Homo sapiens: one gene and its partners. The protein of the gene in region 2 interacts with the protein of the main gene of each other region in a pairwise test. Each region holds a gene or a part of one and is shown on either strand. Other genes may lie near its edges.

What was found. Proteins that work in one complex are often made in the same cells at the same time.
Region 1: the proteins of SLC22A2 (region 2) and LAPTM4B interact in a protein complementation assay, tested with the Homo sapiens proteins (one large-scale study listed by BioGRID).
Region 3: the proteins of SLC22A2 (region 2) and PDIA6 interact in a protein complementation assay, tested with the Homo sapiens proteins (one large-scale study listed by BioGRID).

What each region holds. Positions count from the first base shown.
Region 1 is NC_000008.11:97,778,064-97,783,189, reverse strand, and holds part of LAPTM4B (lysosomal-associated transmembrane protein 4B), read right to left. Parts: intron 1-5,126. UniProt on the Homo sapiens protein: Required for optimal lysosomal function. Blocks EGF-stimulated EGFR intraluminal sorting and degradation.
Region 2 is NC_000006.12:160,240,722-160,245,847, forward strand, and holds part of SLC22A2 (solute carrier family 22 member 2), read right to left. Parts: intron 4,825-5,126; coding exon 4,718-4,824; intron 3,066-4,717; coding exon 2,851-3,065; intron 1,682-2,850; coding exon 1,573-1,681; intron 866-1,572; coding exon 753-865; intron 1-752. UniProt on the Homo sapiens protein: Electrogenic voltage-dependent transporter that mediates the transport of a variety of organic cations such as endogenous bioactive amines, cationic drugs and xenobiotics. Functions as a Na(+)-independent, bidirectional uniporter.
Region 3 is NC_000002.12:10,787,884-10,793,009, reverse strand, and holds part of PDIA6 (protein disulfide-isomerase A6 isoform d precursor), read left to right. Parts: intron 1-1,084; coding exon 1,085-1,215; intron 1,216-2,176; coding exon 2,177-2,291; intron 2,292-3,120; coding exon 3,121-3,261; intron 3,262-4,028; coding exon 4,029-4,113; intron 4,114-4,240; coding exon 4,241-4,313; intron 4,314-5,126. UniProt on the Homo sapiens protein: May function as a chaperone that inhibits aggregation of misfolded proteins. Negatively regulates the unfolded protein response (UPR) through binding to UPR sensors such as ERN1, which in turn inactivates ERN1 signaling.

The sequences.
Region 1 (5,126 bases), on a different chromosome or scaffold from region 2:
ATATGGCTAACTACCCTGTGAACAGTGTCTGGCACAGAGGCATTTGGTATGTATTTGCTGTGTCTAAGTTCCTAAAAAATAACTGAACAAGGATATTTAAAAAAAAAAAAAAAAAAAGGCCGGGCGCGGTGGCTCACACTTGTAATCCCAACACTTTGGGAGGCCAAGGCGGGCAGATCACCTGAGGTCGGGAGTTTGAGACCAGCTTGACTAACATGGAGAAACCCCGTCTCTACTAAAAAATAAATAAATAAATAAATAAATAAATAAATAAATAAATAAAATACAAAATTAGCCAGGTATGGTGGTGCATGCCTGCAATCCCAGCTACTTTGGAGGCTGAAGCAGGAGAATCACTTGAACCCAAGAGGCGGAGGCTGCAGTGAGCCGAGACTGCACCACTGCACTCCAGCCTGGGCAACAAGAGCGAGACTCCGTCTCAGAAAAAAAAAAAGGCTGGGGACGGTGGCTCACGCCCGTAATCCCAGCACTTTGGGAGGCCGAAGCAGGTGGATCAGGAGGTCAGGAGTTCGAGACAAGCCTGACCAACATGGTGAAACCCCGTCTCTACCAAAAATAAAAAATTAGCCAGGGATGGTGGCGCATGCCTGTAGTACCAGCTACTCAGGAGACTGAGGCAGGAGAATCGCTTGAACCCGGGAGGCAGACGTTGCAGTGAGCTGAGACTGCGCCACTGCACTCCAGCCTGGACAACAGAGTGAGGCTCTGTCTCAAAAACAAAAGCCTGGAGTGGTGTGGAGTGGTGGTGTGAGCCTGTAGTCCCAGCTACTTGGGAGGCTGAAATGGCAAGGCTGCTTGAGCCAGGGAAGACAAGGCTGCATTGAGCCACTCCAGCCTGGGCAATAGAGTGAGATCTTGTCACAAAAAAAAAAAAAAAAAAAAAAAAAAAGCTGGGCATGGTGGCTCAGGCCTGTAATCCCAGCACTTTGGGAGGCTGAGGGGAGCAGATCACCAGAGGTCGGGAGTTCGAGACCAGCCTGACCAACATGGAGAAATCCTGTTATCTACTAAAAATACAAAATTAAACAGGTGTGGTGGCGCATGCCTGTAATCCCAGCTACTAGGGAGGCTGAGGCAGGAGAATTGCTTGAACCTGGGAGTCGGAGGTTGCGGTGAGCCGAGATCGCACCATTGCACTCCAGCCTGGGCAACAAGAGCTAAACTCTGTCTCAAAAAAAAAAAAAAAAGTCCCCAAAGTCTTGTGCAAGAATGTTCAGTGCAGCTTTATTTATAATAGCCCCAAATTGGAAATAACCCAAATGTCCAATATCTGGCAAATGGATAAACAAATTGTGGTATATTAATACAATAAAAACAATACTCAGCAATAAAAAGCAACACTCCAAGAAGATGAATGAATCTAAAAGAAGTTATGCTAAGTGAAAGAAGCTAGATACAGAAGGGTACACACAGCATAATTCCATTTTACATGAATAAGCAAAACTTACCTACAGTGATTGGGGATATGGCAGGGATTAACTGGGAAACAGCACAAGGGAACTTGCTGAAAGTTTGGAAATGTTCTCAAGGAATGTGGGTTACATTACAGAGGCATTTGTCAACTCAATAAACTACATTTAACTGTGAATTTTGCCGGGCACGGTGGCTCACGCCTGTAATCCCAGCACTGTGGGAGGCCGAGGCGGGCGGATCACCTGAGGTCAGGAGTTCAAGACCAGCCTGGCCAACATAATGAAACCCTGTCTCTACTAGGAAAACAAAAATTAGCCAAGCGCAGTGGTGGGTGCCTGTAATACCAGCTACTTGGGAGGCTGAGGCAGGAATCACTTGAACCCAGGAGGCGAAGGTTGCAGTGAGCTGAGATTGCACCACTGCACTTCGGCCTGAGCAATAAGAGCAAAACTCCTCAAAAAAAAAAAAAAAAAAAAAGGCCGGGCACAGTGGCTCACGCCTGTAATCTCAGCACTTTGGGAGGCCAAGGCGGATGGATCACAAGGTCAGGAGTTCAAGACCAGCCTGAACAACATGGGGAAACCCCATCTCTACTAAAAATACAAAAATTAGCCCGGAGCTCACCTGTAATCCCAGCTACTCAGGAGGCTGAGCAGGAGAATCGCTTGAACCCAGGAGGCGGAGGTTGTGGTGAGCCGAGATCACGCCACTGCACTCCAGCCTGGGCGTCAGAGCGAGACTCGGTCTCAAAAAAAAAAAATTGTAGTACATAAATCACAACTCAATAAAAGAAAAAAAAAGAGACAAACAAAAAATGATCTCTAGAATAAATACCTGAAGTCTCCCAAAGTTAGCGTGGCCCAGAATTTTAAAAATAGTAATAATAATAATAAATACCTGAAGTCAATATACTTTACTTCAGGACTGAAGGAAAACTTTTATTATTCCAAGACAAAACCAAAACACATGCACAACTTTTAAAAGTAAAACAGTGGAAACAGAACAGATTAAAACATCACTCAGATCATAAACCAACCATGGGATTTTAAGCTCTCAAGTAAATCACCAAAGTTCTCTAAGCCTCAGTTTTCTCATCTGTAAAATGGGAATAAGAAAATCTACCTCACCAGGAATATGTAAAAATTAACCTTATGCAAAGTATCTAGTAAAGTACATGACACTTGGAGCCTTAGTAAACGGTATTGGTAGGAATCAACAATAAGAAAACATATAAAAAAGATCCACTTTACCTATCTTGCAAAACAGGAAATTACTTAAATGAGCCCTTATTGTGGACTCTTACTTTTTGTTTTATTTATTTATTTATTTTGAGACAGAGTTTCGCTTTTGTTGCCCAAGCTGGAGTGCAATCGCACGATCTCAGCTCACTGCAACCTCCGCCTCCTGGGTTCAAATGATTCTTCTCTCAGCTTCCCAAGTAGCTGGGGTTACAGGCACGTGCCACCACGCCCCACTAATTTTTTATATTTTTAATAGAAACAGGGTTTCATCATGTTAGCCAGGCTGGTCTCAAAACTCCTGACCTCAGGTGATCCACCCGCCTCAGTCTCCGAAAGTGCTGGGATTACAGGTATGAGCCACCGTACCCGGCCTGGACTCTTATTTAAATATCTGCCTTGTCTGAAAACTCTCCGCTTTATTATTATTATTCTTTATTTTACTTTTCTTTTTTTTTTTTTTTTTTGAGACAGAGTCTCACTCTGTTGCCCAAGCTGGAGTGCAGTGGCGTGATCTCGGCTCACGGCAACCTCTGCCACCTGGGTTCAAGGGATTCTCCTGCCTCTGCCTCCCCAGCAGCTGAGATTACAGGTGCCTGCCACTGCGCCCGACTAATTTTGTAGTTTTAGTAGAGATGAGGTTTCACCACCTTGGCCAGACTGGTTTTGAACTCCTGACCTCAAGATCCACTCACCTCGGCCTCCCAAAGTGCTGGGATTATAGGCGTGAGCCACCCACACCCAACTTTTTTTTTTTTTTTTTTAGATAAGAGTCTTGCTGTCACCCAGGCTGGACTTTCCACCTCCAGAGTTCAAGCAATTCTCATGCCTCAGCCTCCTGAGTAGCTGGGATTACAGGCGCATGCCACCACGACCGAATAATTTTTGTATTTTTATTAGAGACGGGATCTTGCCATGTTGCCCAGGCTGGTCTAGAACTCCTGACCTCAAGTGATCCGCCTACCTCGGCCGCCCAAAGTGCTTACAGGCGTGAGCCTCTGCACCAGGCCTCTTTCTCTTTTTTTTTCTTTTTTTGAGACAGAGTCTCACTGTCACCCAGGCTAGAGTGCAGTGGCACAATCTTGGCTCACTGCAACCTATGCCTCCCAGGTTCAAGCAATTCTCCTGCCTCAGTCTCCCAAGTAGCTGGGATTATAGGCCTACACCACCGCACCTAATTTGTACTTTTAGTAGAGATGGGGTTTTACCACACTGGCCATGGTTGGTCAGGCTGGTCTCGAACTCCTGACCTCCAATGATCTGCCCGCCTCAGCCTCCCAAAATGCTGGGATTACAAGCGTGAGCCACCGCACTTGGCCTCTGTTAAGAGACAGTGCTCACTCTGGTTGCCCAGGCTGGAGTGTAGGGGTGCAATCACAGCTCACTGCAGCTTCGAACTCCTGGGACTCAAGCTGGGACTACAGGTGTGAGCCACCACACCTGGCTAATTCTTAACTCTCCACTTTCTGATAATTGACTCCATTCCATCCAGATGGCTGGCTGAGAGAAAGGGTTAGGACAAACCAGGGAAGGTGCCTCGTTTTACAGTGGTCCTGCTCCCTAGCCACACAAACTCTCTTAAAAAAGTTCAAGAAAATCAAAGTTTTGGACAACCAAATTGTTGTAACCGAGCAACTTATAGAGAAACCACACTCTGAGACGAATTCAGGAGTCCTTTATTAGCCGGCGACCCAGAGACGGCTAGTGCTCAAAATTCTCTTGGCCCTAAAGAAGGGGCTAGATTTTCTTTTATACTTTTGTTCAGAAAGGGGAGGGGGAGAGTCTAGTTAAAACAAAGTAGGCAAAAAGTTAAAAGGACAAATGGTTACAGGAAAGTAAACAGTTCCAGGTGCAGGGGCTTTAAATCTATCACAAGGTGACAGACGCGGGGCTTTGGGTGTTATCAACCGGACACAAACGCGGGGGCTCTGGGTACTATTAACCGGGCGAATTCCTGGGAACTGCGGATATAGCTTGCCACAGTATCTTATCAGTTAATTGCATTCTTGGATGTGCTGGGAGTCAGCTTGCACAAGTTAAGTCCTTGAGGAAGCGGGTGGGTAAGGGGCTGCAAGTGAAGGAGCCAAGATGGAGTCTTGTCTGGCTCTTAGCTAAGGGAGAGTCAATTCAGGTTAAAACAAGGTAGGGTATCACAAAATTATATTCAAAGGTCTGAGTGAAAATCACTACTTTAAAAAAAAAAAAGAAAGAAAAGAAAAAGGCTTACATTGCCTTGTGAAATGCAAAAGACTATTTATAAAGATTACCAGTACTTAAGCCAGGTTTCCCAGAAATAGGGTTTACCTAAAGCAACATTTTTATTCACATCTGCTAGAAAGCTTTCTAATTACCTTTCAAAAGGCCATTTATTTCCAAACGTTAAGACAAACACACCAATAACTACTTTCCACAGAGAGCGTGCTCAAACAGTAGACAAAGCATGCTGAGTACTCT
Region 2 (5,126 bases):
CTTCTCTTCCCCTAAATTGAGTGCTATATGCCCATGGGAAAAAGCATCACATATTCAATTAAAAGCAGCTCAGAATGGGTGTCAAAGGAGCCTGAAATGGGTGCATTGAGGTGTTCCAGTTAACCAGAGAAGGCTCAGTGCTGGTGTGTTCCTGCTGGCAGTAGCAGAAGGGAAGTGCTATGTGACGCTCCTGAAATCTAATTGCTCCAGGTGCATCAACACAGGTGCTCCATTATGCTGATGCATTTTCTTAATGTGGGTCTTTATTTCCTCTGGGTTTTGAAATTGCCTTTTGCAAAATTTTAACCCCCTTCTTTGAAGTAAGAAGTAAAAGGGCTTGTGTTTTACCACCTCTGGGCATGGAGGAGTTAACTCTTTGACAGAGACCTCAGGAAGGGTGGAAATCAGCAGAGAGAGAGTTAGGGGCCTGCTGCTGGGAAACTTTCTTCCTTCTCATTCTTCTCTTCAACATTCTGCCTCTATGGCAGGAGTCCCATACTTGAGTATTAGTAGTGATGATAATATTATGAATACTGAACTAGTATTATTGATTAGTATTACTAATACTAATAATATTACTAATTACTAGGCACATCCAGGAAGAACGCAAGCCACAGACACATCATTACTACTATGAGTAGTAATTAGTAGTTACTAATAGGCATGACACCTGTTTTGAATGAAGTAGAAGAGAAGTGAAGGTCTCTAGAAAAATAAGTTTTCACTTAAAGACATCTGTGAAGATTTCTTACCGAAAACCATCAGCGGGAGCTCAAGCCAGATGTTAGTGAGCCGGTAGACCAGGAATGGCGTGATGATGCCACCAATGTCACACATTGAGGAACAGATGTGGACGCCAAGATTCCTAGAATGCAGGAAACTGATTTAACTTGTTAACTTATCACAGTGCAGTAGTTATCTCCCATCCACCCCTGAATAAACACTTCCTCAAATAATTAAAATGTTCAAGAGCTATAGTGTACACTGCTCAGGTGACGGGTGCACCAAAATCTCAGAAATCACCACTGAAGAACTTATTCATACAACCATATACCACCTGTTTCCCAGAAACCTATTGAAATAAAAAAAAAACACCAAAAATAAAATGTTCAAGAGTTTAAAAAAACATTCACGTTATTTTCAATGCACAATATTTTATATATATATATATATACATAATTCCATTCATATTCTGTCATTCTTGTTTTGTATAAACCTTAAATTTTTTTTTAATGATGGGAGGAGCAATTGTTTCTTTTTACTTCCATCACCTGGCTTCCCTAAGCTGTTTCTATGGACCTGTTTGTGCTGTTCCACAACAATCTCCCCTGTAGCCATTGGGTAATCCCTGTCTTGCAATTCAATTTTCTGTTCTCACCATGGCCTCTGTATTTTACCCCAGCCTGTAAGTGTGAGAGGTGAACTGCTGGGCCTGGCTGGACCTTTACGTGTTCTCACCTTCCCTTACACTGTGTTTTGAAGGTAAGATATCCTTTGTCTGCACTTGTGGTGGTTCCAGCCAATGAACAAATGTCTCACCCACCCTCGTCATTCTAAGGAAAATGCACTCACCTAATGAATGTGGGGTACAGCTCAGCATTGACCAGGCAGACTATCTCATAGGCCATTGTGATCCCCATTCTTCCCAAGCATGAGATAATAATTTTTAGCCATTGTAGATCTAAGAGGGAAAAGAACAGTACTTATCCGTACACAGATGATTCCTCATCTTCAGACAGTGCTCCAGAGTGGGACTGTAAGGACAAATTCCCCATCCCAGAATGGGACAAGAAAGAAAAATGACTTCTTCTATAGGCTCATGTTAATGTCAGCAGATTCTCACGTTTGTTCATCTTAACCTCAGACACAATGCTAATTCTCTCTTTTTTAAAAAAGATATTTTTTTTAGAGCAGTTTTAAGTTCACAGCAAAATGGAGAGGAAGGTACAGAGATTTCCCACATAACCTCTGCCCCCACACATGCATTCCACCCCCCACTGCCCATCATCGACATTCTCCACAGAGTGGTATGTTTGTTACTTGATGAACCTTCAGTGGCAACGATAATCACCCCAAATCTATAGCTGGCATTAGGGTTCACTCTTGGTGGTACACCTCCTGTGGGTTTGGACAAATGCATAATGACCTGTATCCACTATTTTAGTATCATATGGAATAATTTCACTGCCCTAAAAATCCTCTGTGTTCTCTTAACTTTAGACCTCAGTTGTTAATGACAACGGAGTTATACCAGTTTCCAAAGCTGGGCCAACTTTAGTCTATAGAAGTCAAAGAAAGAGCAAAATATGGGCACATTTAAACAACTGCTAATAACAAAAGGATTCAAACGAAGCTCCATATTGCTAAAAGGATTCTCTTATCCAGGTATTTGTTCCCCTTCGTTGAGGAAGCATTTTAAAAGGGAAAAAGGGAACTGAATAGTTATTTATGGATGGCATTTACTTACATTTTTCTCATTTATTCTGCAGGTTGATGCAGGGAGGTCAAGAGAGTCCCCAGTTAACACCCAGGAAGGGCTGGAGTAAGACCTTGACCTGGGCCTGCTTTACCCAAGGCCCATGCTCTCTGCTCCAGGTCATCTTGATGGCCTGTAGCATGGGGCTGTAAAGTCTCTCTTGTTACATCACATCAAGGAAAAATTGGGTACAATTTTTCCTAAAGGGAGGCTGGCCATATGAATTTGCTCAGAAGGGTCCCAGATACTGCCCTCCAATTTGTCTTTCCAAATTGATTTGGATGACAAATTACATGGTTTTCCTATCAATGGGCCGTGACACTCCCTTTCTCCAGGGTCTTGGAGATAAGACTCCAACTTCACCTGAAACTTACCACCAGGTATAAAAACTGAGGCCAGACAGGCTGCCCCTGCAACCATATTTGATGCAGCCCAAGGGTAACGGCGTCCGATGCGGTCGATGGTGAGGATGATCATGAAGGCAGCTGGGAATTCAACCAGGGCAGAGTAGAAGAAATCCAGGTAGATATTGTCACCTGCAAGGCCCATGTGCATGATGAGGCCCTGGTAGAGCACAGAGCTCGTGAACCTGAGCAAAGAGGAGAGTTCAGGTCAAGTCAAGCACCAAACACAGGGCACCAAAAAAGAGAGGCTTCTGGAAAAATAATGTGGATTGTAGGTCACCTTTCCCTGTGACCATCTCCTTGCTAGTCCCCCATCCCACTGCTTTTATAATCTCTGATCTACTTCAGTGGCTGGCTGTGGCTGGGTAGTTTCCAAAAACCAGGAGAAGGGAAGAAATTGGAATAGTTAGAACTAATTAGAAATTACGATAATGTTTCCTGGACAAATTGAAAGCCAAGAAGAATGTCTTAATGGAATGATTTATTTTATTTATTTATTTTTTGAGACAGAGTCACTCTGTTGCCCAGGCTGGAATGCAGTGGTGCAATCTTGGCTCACTGCAAACTCTACCTTTCAGTTTCAAGTTATTCCCCTGCCTCAGCCTCCCTAGTAGTTGGGATTACAGACGTGTACCACCTGCTAATTTTTGTGCTTTTAGTAGACATGGGGTTTTGCCATGTTAACCAGGCTGGTCTTGAACTCCTGGCTTCATGTGATCTGCCTGCCTCAGCCTCCCGAAATGCTGGGATTCCAGGTGTGAGCCACTGTGCCTGGCCAATGGAATGATTTATTTAGTAAAACTATATCAAGTTATTAGTGGTTGTGAGTTATTTCTCTCTTTGGGGTATTCTAGTGCAATTGGGATCGAAAGAACTGACTACTTAATTCAAATTTTAGGAAACCAGAAGACCAAGTGAGTACGGCCTCCCTTCTTGGTGACTTCTCTCCTGGCCTGTTACGAACAACATTTGGACAATGTTTCTAGTTTATTAACTAAACATAGTCATTACATGTAATGGAAAATATGAGGATAATCAACAAAAGTCACGATTACTCAGAAAAGGAAAGAAGGATAATGAGGCCAAATTTCAAAGCTGCCTCTCCTGTGCACTATTGTAAAGGTTGCTAAAGTAATTCCTCATGAGCTTTGCTTTTGTCAGTGATTGTAAATCTCCATTTGCCTGGGTGGAGATCCAATGTGCCCTGAAAAGATGCATTCCCCACTAGAGAAAGCATGGCTTGAAGCTCTGAGAGCAGCCTGTAGGTAGCAAACACAATAAAGATCAAGTCACTGGGCTGTGAAGCCACTGGAATTATTCTTGTTCAGAAATTTATTTTTTCTCCAGGTAGAAAAGAAAAAAAGGAAAGAAAAGGCAATCCCCCCACAACCCTGTTTTTTGTTTGTTTGTTTTTTGCCAGTTCTGTACTACAATAGAGATCTACATGCATCATCAATTAAGTTATACCAATAGTTCTCTAGTTGGGCTATGCATTTGAATCACCTGGAGAATTAAAAAACTATTGGTTTCCAAGCCCTACCCTAGAACAATTAAATCAGTATTTCTGGGGGTTTTGGCTTTGGTATTTTGTAAGCTCCCAGGTGATTCCAATGTGAAGCCGAGGTTGCCATTGCCTTGATCTGTGCTTAGGGGCTACACCGATCTTAATATTTGCCCAAGAAAAACACGATCAGGAAAACCTACCAGACACAACCCACATTGCTGCCCACCGTCAGCGCTAATACCGGGATGAGGTCATGTTTTCTTCCCTTCCTTACTATGGATGACTGTGATTAAAACAATTTGGAGGCATTTCAAAGTGAAAAATATTCCTTACCAGTTGTACATCAATATCATAGTATGTTTCCTTATCTGAGGAGTTCTGACCAAGTCAAGAAATGAAGGGTTCAATTTCTTGCCAGTTTCCTCTTCAAGTCTCAGGCGCTAAGAAAAGGAATAGAAAGGACGGCTTTGTATATTTAATGCTAGTGTCCCTGGGTCACATAGGGAATAACAATAATTTCTTACCGTCCTGAGCGCCCATCTCATGCCCAGCACTAGAGCAAGCACTTTCCATACTGTGTCCCATTTCATTTTTTTTTTTTTTTTTTTTTTGAGACTGAATCTTGCTCTGTCACCCAGGCTTGAGTGCAGTGGTGCAATCTCGGCTCACTGCAACCTCCACCTCCTGGGTTCAAGCAATCCTCTGCCTCAGCCTCCTGAGTAGCTGGGATTACAGGCATGCA
Region 3 (5,126 bases), on a different chromosome or scaffold from region 2:
TATGTTAAAGTGGTGAACTCTCAATTAAAGAATAATAGAGGATTGGATCCACCGATCCCAGAGGGAACCAGCCCTCCAGCCTGCTCATTTGGCCTCCTCAGAATTGCTGTTGCCAAAGCCAGTCAGTCCCAGGGCCTCTTGCCACACCTGCAGTCCAAGTACCAGGCCCAGGAGCCACGTGCTGGCATCCCATGGCACTTGTAGGTCCAGAGTGGGGATGGGATGGACGGGTTTTCCTCTAGGTAGGCTTTGGCAAACCGTGATGAGATTGGATTACCTCTTGGCCTGTATCTGTGGCAGTCAGCCCCAAATCCATGGAAAATTCTACACAAATGGATAGGGAAGAAGAGAGAGAGAGAGGAGCAGATTGGTGTTTTAGATGCCCTTATGTGAAATGTGAAGCTTACACTGATGTTCTTGTGAAAAGACAAACTTGAAGATCTATCAATATTAAATGGGCTTTTACTTTTAGGAGACCAGTTACACTAGCTTCTTTATACAGGCTCAGAGCTTACCCAGAGATTTCATGCTCTTGCCTTTTATTTTAAACTTAGACATTTAATGAGCATAGTTGCCTGGCCCCCTGCACCCTGCCTGGCAACAGAAAGCAATGCTGACTGCTTCTTAGATTTAGTACTGAAGAACATTCTTCGAAAAAAGAAAAGGATTAAGTGTTATTTTTAGCTCTGTTGACTGGTAGGGACTTTGTCTATGAAAGATGTAACATAACATCCTAGGATGAAGCAGCAGCTGTACTTGAGTCTGAATTAGAACAGTGTTGTTCAGGTGGTTTTTTGAGCCATGTTGAGGTTTCTCTCTAAAAATAGCTGGTGACAGCATTCAGGTACAGGTTATGTGTTGTACTGAATGTATTGATAATTACTTGAAAGTAAAAGACTATTTGCCAAGCAAAAATTACAGTGCTGAGGAATGTACCCAATTTGAATACAACCGTTTTCACTATTTTATTCACTAAAGAAAAACCCTAAAACTTTGTTAAGATGTAGCAGTAGTGTTATTATTTAAAACAGGAAAAGTGTTCTTCTTGGCCCAATTGTTTGATGTTTAATGTCATAAATGACAGGGCAGAAGTGATAGTTCAAGTAAGAAGGATGTGATTGAGCTGACAGACGACAGCTTTGATAAGAATGTTCTGGACAGTGAAGATGTTTGGATGGTTGAGTTCTATGCTCCTTGGTGTGGACACTGCAAAAAGTAAGTGCCTTCTACTAAGTAGTCTGTTCATTCACAGTGTTTTCAGTACATTCATTAGCTTATTTTGAAAGAGCTGAAGTAGATAATAGATCACCACTAAGATCTCTTCCAGCAAAACTCTGACTCTAAGTGAATATTAAACATTGACATTAGCGCCAAGAGCTTCCACTCTCCTATTGCCAAAGATTAACAAGGGACTGGCTCATGTCTGGATTTAGGGGCAGTGGTGGAATGGGAAGCTCATGTGAAGGGTAGCATTGTATCTTTAGTAAAGCCACACACAAAATGTTTTCTAGGTGTGACATAATTGGGGATTGGGCAGAAATGCACAGATCAGTTAAAAAGTATAGGCTAGGCATGGTGGCTCACACCTGTAATCCTAGCTCTTTGGGAGGCCGAGGCAGGCGGATCACTTGAGGTCAGGACTTTGAGACCAGCCTGGGCAACATAGCAAAACCCCATGTCTACTAAAAATACAAAAAAATTGGCTGGGTGTGGTGGCGTGTGCCTGTAGTCCCAGCTACTTGGGAGGTTGAGGTGCAAGAATCTCTTGATTGTGGGAGGCAGAGGCTACAGTGAGCCAAGCTCACACCACTGCGCTCCATCCTGGATAATAGAAGGAGACTCTGTCTTAAAAAAAAAAAGAAAAGAAAAGAAAGGTGTTTGGGCTGCAAGTTAAAATGCAAGTATTTGGCCTGGTGAGGTGGATCACTTGAGGCCAGGAGTTTGAGACCAGCCTGGGCAACATGGGGAAACCCTATCTCTACTAAAAATGTAGAAATTAACAGTGGGTGGTGGCACACACCTGTAGTCCCAGCTATGTTGGAGGCTGAAATGAGATCACCTGAGCCCAGGAGATTGAGGCTGCAGGGAGCCATGATTGCACCACTGCACTCCAGCCTGGGCAACAGAGAGAGACTGTGTCTCAAAGAAACAAAACAAAACGAATATTTTTCTATAGCCTAGAGCCAGAGTGGGCTGCCGCAGCTTCAGAAGTAAAAGAGCAGACGAAAGGAAAAGTGAAACTGGCAGCTGTGGATGCTACAGTCAATCAGGTTCTGGCCTCCCGATACGGGGTGAGTATACTTATAAGGCTCATTTCATTGTGAAATACATGGTGTTTCGTTACTTCTTCCAATACTCCAGGCCTCCCTATGAGGTAGTAAAGGAGATGTTTAAACCATTTTGTAAGTGAAGAGATAAAGTCACTTTATTGTCATAACTAACAAGTCTGAAACTCAGGACTGTCAACTTTTCCCCCTAATGTCACACTGCTTCTGGTATATACTTAATGTGAGGTTTCAGCTTGCCCAGACTTATTCAAGTTGCTCATATGGCTGTTGTGAGTTGGTCCATTTGTTCTAGGGCAGGTACTTTGTGTTAATTATATACCAGGGCTTGAATATGATTGGCTAAACTTCACAGACTGTTAAAACTCCCTGATTGATAATTGACCTCTGTGAGTCATTCCTTTGAAATCTGTGCAGTCTGGAGAACAGTTTTGTTACATTAAATTACCTATAAGGCCAGAGTGGTGGCTCACACCTGTAATCCCAACACTTTGGGAGGCCAAGGATCACTTGAGGCCAGGATTTCAAAACCAGCCTGGCCAACATGGTGAAACCCCGTCTCTATTAAAAATACAAATATTAGCCGGGTGTGGTGGTGTGTGCCTGCAGTCCCAGCTACTCAGGAGGCTGAAGTAGGAGAATTGCTTGAACCCAGGAGGCAGAGGTTGCAGTGAGCTGAGATTGCACCTGTGCTCTCCAGCCTGGGCAACAGAGTGAGACTGCTTCAAAAAAAAAAAAAAAAAATTACCTATAAGGTGGTTTTAGAAACTGTAAAGATTGTGTTATTTTGCATTAAGTGTTAATTGGATTTTATCCTCTGACCTTTTTTTAATAGATTAGAGGATTTCCTACAATCAAGATATTTCAGAAAGGCGAGTCTCCTGTGGATTATGACGGTGGGCGGACAAGATCCGACATCGTGTCCCGGGCCCTTGATTTGTTTTCTGATAACGCCCCACCTCCTGAGCTGCTTGAGGTAAACCACTTCAACTGCTTGTAGTCCAGAAAGCTTTTTTAGCTGATGGTGAGGAATGTTAAAGCAGTGTGACACACTGTTCATTTTATGCCCTTAAAGATACTCTCTTTAAAGTGGTTTCTATACTTTGAAATGGAAAAAAAGTCTGATAAATTGCTTTTCATAACTTTTAGCATTAGAATAATTACACTGAACAGAAATACGAGCTTCTTAAAGATAGAGTGTATTCAATCACTCTTGCTTATCATTCTCAAAGTAATAGAACATTTATCAAGTACTAATCATGTAACAGGCACCGTTCTGGTGTCTTTGTATAGTTTTGTTTTGTTTTGTTTTGTTTTCATTTAATTCTCACATGAACACTGAGAGGTAGATACTGTTTTTAATCTCCATTTTATATATGGGGAAATTGAGGCACAGAGCCTCAAGTGTGTATAAACATATAAGACATATAATACATGTAAGTATAATCTATTTAAACAAGTAAGTGGCAGAGCCAGGCTGTGTCCAGGCATTGCGATTTCAGAGATGTTTGTATGTGTGCTAATCACCCCACCTCCACCACCACAGCTTCCACAGGCTTAAGAATCAGTAGCAGAAAAATCTCCTCTTAGAGAACATGCCTCCAGGTGTTTCCATACGAGGAAGTAGTCGTGGGAGAAATGTTTTCAATGAAAGTGACGGTGCGAAGGTCTTGTTTGCCAGCTTACCTTTAGGTGTTGTATCATGCAGCCTCCTGATTGTCCCTTGTCTTTTGGGTCCCACAGATTATCAACGAGGACATTGCCAAGAGGACGTGTGAGGAGCACCAGCTCTGTGTTGTGGCTGTGCTGCCCCATATCCTTGATACTGGTAAGACAGACGGAAATGATTTCCCTTAGCTGTTCTATGCTAGATGCTCTGAGAATACTTTCTAAATGGATTAATTTTATGGACTCCTTTATCTTTACCTTTAAAAAACTTTGTCTATTTAAATCAGGAGCTGCAGGCAGAAATTCTTATCTGGAAGTTCTTCTGAAGTTGGCAGACAAATACAAAAAGAAAATGTGGGGGTAAGTTACTGAGCTTACTGTCTGAGTGTCATCTGAACAGCTGATTATAGGCTTTCTTGAGAGTGGTTCCCCCGTGTTTTTGTAAGCTGTGTTCTATGTTTGCTCTGCTATATGTTTTTTTTTTTTTTCCCTCCTGCCTCAGCCTCCCAAGTAGCTGGGATTATAGGCGCCCGCCACCACACCCAGCTAATTTTTGTATTTTTAGTAGGGTCAGGGTTTCACCATGTTGTCTAGGCTGGTCTCAAAACTCCTGACCTCAAGTGATCCACCTGCCTCCACCTCCCAAAGTCCTGGGATTACAGGTGTAAGCCACCGCACCCGGCCTGCTCTGCTATATGTTTTTATTCAGGATGTGAAAACTTTATCATGGGAGGAAAAGAAGGAATGAAGGGCTGTCAGCACAGCATGCATTTTTCTCATAGGAATCATGTTTTACATGGTGATTGGAGTGCCAGGTTAGCAGGCAGACACATAAGGAGTAGTGCACCTGAATTCTACTGTGAACTTGAAGGCTGGGTGAGAAAGGGGAAATAGAATTGTTTCCTTCTCCTCTTCTGAGTTAAGGACTGGATCTAGGCACATTTTCAAAACAGTGTATCTCTTTCCTATTTTATCCTTTTTTTTTTTTTTTGAGACAGAGTCTCACTCTCTTGCCCAGGGTGGAGTGCAGTGGCACAATCTCGGCTTACTGCAACCTCCGCCTCCCGGGTTCAAAAGATCCTCCTGCCTTAGCCTCCTGCGTAGCTGGGACTACAGGCGCACGCCACCATGCCCGGCTAATTTTTGTGATTTTAGTAGAGATGGGGTTTGCAC